Homo sapiens: one gene and its partner. The protein of the gene in region 2 interacts with the protein of the main gene of each other region in a pairwise test. Each region holds a gene or a part of one and is shown on either strand. Other genes may lie near its edges.

Evidence for each region. Proteins that work in one complex are often made in the same cells at the same time.
Region 1: the proteins of FOXO3 (region 2) and RBL1 interact in binary tests that used the Homo sapiens proteins (3 or more experiments, as listed by UniProt).

The regions. Positions count from the first base shown.
Region 1 is NC_000020.11:37,064,998-37,068,650, reverse strand, and holds part of RBL1 (retinoblastoma-like protein 1), read left to right. Parts: intron 1-464; coding exon 465-665; intron 666-1,353; coding exon 1,354-1,418; intron 1,419-1,529; coding exon 1,530-1,658; intron 1,659-1,766; coding exon 1,767-1,927; intron 1,928-3,177; coding exon 3,178-3,227; intron 3,228-3,653. UniProt on the Homo sapiens protein: Key regulator of entry into cell division. Directly involved in heterochromatin formation by maintaining overall chromatin structure and, in particular, that of constitutive heterochromatin by stabilizing histone methylation.
Region 2 is NC_000006.12:108,675,812-108,679,464, reverse strand, and holds part of FOXO3 (forkhead box protein O3), read right to left. Parts: intron 1-3,653. UniProt on the Homo sapiens protein: Transcriptional activator that recognizes and binds to the DNA sequence 5'-[AG]TAAA[TC]A-3' and regulates different processes, such as apoptosis and autophagy.

The sequences.
Region 1 (3,653 bases), on a different chromosome or scaffold from region 2:
TAGGTGCTCTCGCTCCCTCCATAGCAGTAAACTCTATGTGATGACCACTAATTAATAACCTGTATTCCCCTGGTGATCCTGGGAACGAAAGTGATTTCATAGTGAGGACTTTTTTTTTTTAATTAAATTTAGGCTTGAGGGATGGTGTTTGTTCTTTGTTCATGTAAGACAGTGTCTTGCTTTGTCACCCGGGCTGGAGTACATGATTGAGGCTAACTGCAGTCTCGACATCCTGGGCTCAAGCAATTCTCCCACCTCAGCCTCCCAAGTACCTGGGGCTACAGGCACATGCCACCACACCCAGCTAATTTTTTAAATTTTTGTAGAGATGGGGTCTTAACTATGTTGCCTGGGAAATCTGGCTTTTTAATAAAGAGTCTTAGTCATGAATAGAATATTTCCTTTCAATCCATTATTTAAATGAATTTTAAAGGTGCCTTTTTTCTCCTCCTTTTTTTTTTTAGTTTAATACAATTTTTTAGTAAAATGAAGAAATGGATGGACATGTCAAATCTACCACAAGAATTTCGTGAACGTATAGAAAGGCTAGAGAGAAATTTTGAGGTGTCTACTGTAATATTCAAAAAATATGAGCCAATTTTTTTAGATATATTTCAAAATCCATATGAAGAACCACCAAAGTTACCACGAAGCCGGAAGCAGAGGTGAGCCCTTAATCCTTATATAATTGACATAAAGATTATGATACAAACTAAGAGAATATACTTTTTTGAAAGTCTGTTTTTTATGAAAAGTATTCCTGCAAAGAACTTAATTATTTTCTTTTTAAATCCATGTACAATTATCCATATTTGGAAATTCAGGATAATACTTTTACTTATTTTTCTTTCTGTTGTTGTTTTTTTTTTTTTTTTTTTTTTTTTGAGGAGTCTCATTCTGTTGCCCAGGCTGGAGTGCAGTGTCCTGATCTCGGCTCACTGCAACCTCTGTCTCCCAGGTTCAAGCAATTCTCCTACCTTAGCCTCCTGAGTAGCTGGGATCACAGGTGTGCACCACCCCGTCTGGCTCATTTTTTGTATTTTTAGTAGAGACCAGGTCTCACCGTGTTGGCCAAGGTGGTCTCGAACTCCTAACCTCAGGTGATCTACCCACCTCGGCCTCCCAGAGTGCTGGGATTACAGGCATGAGCCACCACACCCAGCCCTATGTTCTGATTATTTTATGCAGGTTGGAAAGGCTTACTTAAGTCCATTTCATAAATAATAGATTACTTTTCTTCATGAATGGAATTTCATGTGTAATTTGATCTATTTGATATTTACATTTACTATTTCAGTTTACATGATATTTAGCGAGCTAGTCAGACAAAAAGTAATTTTTTTCCCTTTTTAGGAGGATTCCTTGCAGTGTTAAGGATCTGTTTAATTTCTGTTGGACACTTTTTGTTTATACTAAGGGTAAGATGACACTTTCAGTGGTCTTACATTTCTACTCTGGGAACTTGGTGCTATTTGACATGAGAGGTTTCTGGTTTTTGTGTCTTTTTTTTTTTTTTTTCCCTTATAAAGGTAATTTTCGGATGATTGGGGATGACTTAGTAAACTCTTATCATTTACTTCTATGCTGCTTGGATCTGATTTTTGCCAATGCGATTATGTGCCCAAATAGACAAGACTTGCTAAATCCATCATTTAAAGGTAAGACCTTTTATTTATTTTTGAAAACTGATTATCAGTTTTTGGAAAAAGATTTTTAAAAGTTGACTATTTTTTTTTCCCTCTGCCCTTCCTACACTGTCAAACTAGGTTTACCATCTGATTTTCATACTGCTGACTTTACGGCTTCTGAAGAGCCACCCTGCATCATTGCTGTACTGTGTGAACTGCATGATGGACTTCTCGTAGAAGCAAAAGGAATAAAGGAGCACTACTTTAAGCCATATATTTCAAAACTCTTTGACAGGAAGGTACTGTACTTATAATTAGATGACTGAGATGTTTACAGATCACCAGTAATGTGAAAAGAAAAAAATGTTTTAAGCAAGTTCTCAGCATTATAGAACTTAGGGTCAGGATTCCCAGGCTTTAGCCTCTACTGTGATTCAGAATTTCCTTATGATCTTGTGTGATGTGAGAAACAGAGCTGTTGAAAAATGTGACCAACTATATGTACTGTTGGGTAAATGTACTGTCAGAGGCAACCGTAGGAGGTACTGATAAAGAATTGTAAAGAATAGAACATCAGAGTAGGGCTGACAAATAATTAGGAAAAACAGGAGGTCAGAATAAGCTGACTAATTTACTGCCACAATTTGAATAACTGCTGACTGTTGACTAAAAGTAGGATGATGTATAACAACCACAGTTTTAATTCCATGTAAATCGAGCAGAAAATCCATGATAGTTTTGTAGCCACTTGTAGGCTATCTGTGTGCATTCTGGACATTGTCTCCTTGGTAATTAACTTAGCTATTTCTACATTTATGAATTGGCTTGTTCCTTTGGGTTTCAATTTCTTATTTCCCCAACGTCGAGCCATTAAATGTAGTTAAGCCTCAAGATTTCTCTTTGGTAAAAGGAGGGGTTTGGATTATGGATCCCACTTTTCAAATATTATGAGATTTTTCTTTAAGCATAAATTCTTCCCTTACTGGTTTCTTCTTCTTTTATACAAATTTTTGTATTCAGTCTTGTGTTCCTCAGATATCTATATTATGGCCCATTGTCTGTATGCTAAACATCTCTAGCAAAGTAAACTTTTTTTAAAGGATCCCAGGGACTGGGCGCGGTGGCTCACGCCTGTAATCCCAACACTTTGGGAGGCCAAGGCAGGTGGATTGCTTGAGCCCAAGAGTTCCAGACGAACCTGAGCAACATGGCAAAACCTTGTCTCTACAAACAATACAAAAATTAGTTGGGCATGGTGGTGCACAACTGTAGTCCCAGCTACTTGGCACGCTGAGGCTGCAGTGAGCCATGATTGTACCACTGCACTGCAGCCCTGGTGACAGAACAAAACCCTGTCTCAAAAAAAAAAAAAAGTTAAAAAAAAAAGTTATTTGCATGCTAAATAGTTTATCCTAGTCTGAAAGAAATATTTAATAATTCTGTTTTGTGTGTGTGTTATAACAATATGGAAATTTAGATAAATTTCACGTTTGTGTGTGTATTAATATGCTTAATTATATGGTGTCCCAAAATAATTTTTTGTTCACAGATATTAAAAGGAGAATGCCTCCTGGACCTTTCAAGTTTTACTGATAATAGGTAAATATCTAGTACTAATGGTGCCTGGCTTATCACAAGCTGTCATATTTGTTGATTTGTTGAAATTTGTTAAGCATAACAGTATATCAAAGTAAGACCTCCAAATTCAAGTTCTCTCTGCTTTAGTGGCATTGAATGTTTATTATCACTAAGACTTGTTGGCTTTAAATACATTTATTTTAAGAAATCAAGGCCAGGCACGGTGGCCCACACCTGTAAACCCATCACTTTGGAAGGCCAAGGCAGGCAGATTGCTTGAGCTCAGAAGGTTGGAGACCAGCCTGGGCAACATGGTGAAACCCTGTCTCTACAAAAAATACAAAAATCAGCCAGACGTAGTGGTGTGAGCCTGTGGTCCCAGCTACTTGGGAGGTTGAGGTTGGAGGATCGTTTGAATCTGGGAGGTTGTGGTTGCAGTGAGCCGTG
Region 2 (3,653 bases):
ACTGAGGGATTTCCTAGGACATGGGACTTTCCATGCTAAAACAAGGAGAGCCGCTCATCCTAAGTAGATGAGTTATACTTTTCTGGTTCTTCCCTACTGGCTATGTGGACTAACTGAATTGCTTACCACCCTTTTCCACGAATACCCCAACACCAGTGGAGATGAAATGGCCACTTTCTATAAAGGCCTTAATAAGTCTGCAGTGCTGGGTGTGGGTAATCTTGACTCCCCTATTCCCCACCATAAAAAGAGTAAGTAATTACTAAGCGGGCCATCTTAAGAATTTAAGAAATGGGCCGGGCGCAGTGGCTCACGCCTGTAATCCCAGCACTTTCGAAGGCTGAGGAGGGCAGATCACGAGGTCAGGAGATCGAGACCATCCTGGCTAACATGGTGAAACCCCGTCTCTACTAAAAATACAAAAAATTAGCCGGGCGCGGTGGCGGGCACCTGTAGTCCCAGCTACTCGGGAGGCTGAGGCAGGAGAATGGCGTGAACCTGAGAGGCAGAGCTTGCAGTGAGCCAAGATCGCACCACTGCACTCCAGCCTGAGCGACAGCGAGACTCCGTCTCAAAAAAAAAAAAAAAAAAAAAAGAATTTAAGAAATGGGGTCTTGCTATGTTGCCCAGGCTGGACTTGAACTCCTGGGCTCAAGAGATCCTTCCGTCTCAGCCTCCTGAGTAGCTAGGACTACAGGCACGCCAATGCACCTGGCTTAGGAATTTGATTTTTGTATTACAAATTTGGAGAAAAAAAATTACATAACACATATATGGACAAGAAATCCCCCATAAAACACCCCATTAACAATCAACAACATTATTATTATTCTGCCTCCAATTATTATTTTGTCTTCAATGGAAAGGCACAAAAAAGGTGCTCTTAGAGCATCTGAATTTATACAAGTCTTATCAGATGTCATGTGACCACTGGGCCCAGAAAAGTTAAGGGATTAAAAAAAAAAAAAAAAGTATATTCATAGAGCTGTCTTAATAGCAAAAGGACGTGACATGACAGACCTCCAGACATAAGATTCTTTGTTTATGGAGATAGTGTTGGCAGTTATGGTAGTAAAGAAACGGCTCTAGGCCAAGAAATGGATAGAAAAGTGGTAGTGAAACAACATGAACTCGTGCTTTTCTCTCCAGACAAGGTAAATAAGTAATGAAAAAAGCATCAAAAAACTCACACACAAAATCACATTATATACATCTGCTTCTCCCACCTTTAGAGGTTGTACCGTAGGGTCATCAGGAATTCTCATGAGTGTACTGTAACTTCAATCTCTTCTGTGACTCTGCACTTGCTGGCAATCTTACCTTTCACTCTCAATGTTTGCAAACACAGCAGGACTTAGTATTTACAATGTTACATGCCCATGGTCATATTTACTTATCCTTGTTAAAGCTCCAAATTGAAGAATTTAGGTTGTTTTACTGGAGGTAGGGACAATAAAGTATAAAAAGAAGCCTCTTTCTTCTTCCTGTCTATCCCTAGGTTTTAGTTTCCCTGGCTGATGGTTTTTTGGGGCATTCTTTGCTTTGTAAAGCTACTAGATAATATTACCTTGGACTATAAAATAATGGCTTGTTGATTCTAGAGGGAGTAAAAGCTGAAGTAAATACTAGATCTCAGCATCTGTGAAGACCGTAGCTTGCTAAAGTCAGTGCTATTCTAACTACTCTACCTTGCCCTGCAAAGTATGAATGATTAGATAGCGTTTCACAGGCACAGTCCTCTGGAAGAGGATTTGGTTTTTTCCCCTCACAATAACACTTAATAAACCACCATCCAACATCACTATGTGATCAGTCATCAGGGGACTCCCATCCCCAAGTCCCCATCCTGACTTACTGTAAGCGCCGAGGGAGAAGCTGTAAAGTACTACCTAATTCAGATCTCTCTCCAGTTCCCTTGGGTATTAATTATGCAGCCACAGAAGCCAGTGCATAATGGGAAGGTGACACACTTCATTCCCCAAGTACAGAGACAGGGAGTGTGGCTTGCTCCAATGTGGGCTGGGCCAACACAGCAGGAAAGAGGACAGAGGACACCCATGAGCCCCTAACAGAGCACAATTTTGAGCAGAACAGGCCATCACCCCAAAGCCAGGAGTAGGAGGCCCATGTGGGACAGTCTAAAGCACTAACCAACCACAGTCCCCAGGCTTAATATCCATTCCTTCATCAAAAGGCCCCAATCTTCAGAGAACTCCATTATTAAAAACGAGATGTGTGAATCACCACTTTCCCTTTCTGCAGATTGGGGTTGGGGTCACCTGTGAAGCTATGTTCTACAGCTTCCGCTGAGGTCCCCCAGGCAATGCCCTCCCAGGGAGGCCTGCTCAGGAAACCACCTTGGTGCTTATAGGCTGAATTGGTAGAGGATTTGGCCCAGGTATAGAGGCAACTCTTGCAGAGGACAAATTTAATACAGAAACTCCCACTCCAGAGAACAGAAAGGCCTTTGGTTTCCTCTGTGACAGAAGGAAAACAGATTGTAAAACACTGAAAATATAGAAGATAAATGTTGAACAGAAATACAATTAACCTTCTCAGAGGAACACCAGAATCACCATTTACAATGAAAACTGGGGTAATAAAAATAATCAAAAGGAAAGCAGCAGCTCATCTGTCTTAGATTTTTAATGGCTCTCCTGTGGCTCAATGTTTGTACATGCTTATCTGATTCAATCAAGGACAGAAAGAGTAGAGGGAGCATATTAAGTGATGAAACCCAGCTACTGAGCTGGGAAAGTCAATGATACTTAGCTTGGGTACAAGTTTCATGGGTTTTAAGAAAGCTCATGTCATTCTTAAATAGTTTAAAGTATGACATTTTAGTTATACGGTTATTTAGTTAACCGTGAGATTTATGTGTATGTGTCGATGCTCTTCTAGTTTAAAAACACATCGGATTAAGGGGCCAGGCATGGCGGCTCATGCCTGTAGTCTCAGCACTTTGGGAGGCTGAGGGGGGCGGTCCCTTGAGACCAGGAGTTGGAGACCACCCTGGGCAACATGGCAAAACCCCGTCCCTACCAAAAATACAAAAACTAGTCTCATAACCCGGTCTCAAAATAAATAAATAAAATTTTAAAATGCTGTAAGAAAACACATCAGATTAAGCAAAACTTTTGAAAAGAAAATGAAGCTACAGCTGATGGAATTGTAGTTTACTCTGCAAGTACTAGGCAATATGCCAATTAACAATAAATACAAAGATGCTGTTCTGTCCCATCAGTGACTTTCATTAATAAGGGAAGACGCCCTCTCTCCCCTCCCTGCCCAATAAACAAGTTTGAAATCAATTGCTGATACAAAGAAAATGAAATGGGGAGACCAAATAAATGATGAGGTCCATTCTAAAAATATCTACGGATGCTGTCATCTGGTCTCTGGTGAGAGCAAGTCCCTCTATAATCTTGGCATCTGTAGGGAAGACAAGTTTCTGCCTAATTATCACCATAAATCACATGATACTCTAAGAAAGGGAAATGCCTCCAAAAACTACACAAAACATAACAACCCCAATCAACTTTAATCTGGGAATAAAACATAAATGTTCCTACTGCTGTCCTCCCACAACTTAATCCACTGTGAAACATTTTTCAGTAGTGTTTTTATCTTCTGGGCAGAGAAGAACAGAACAG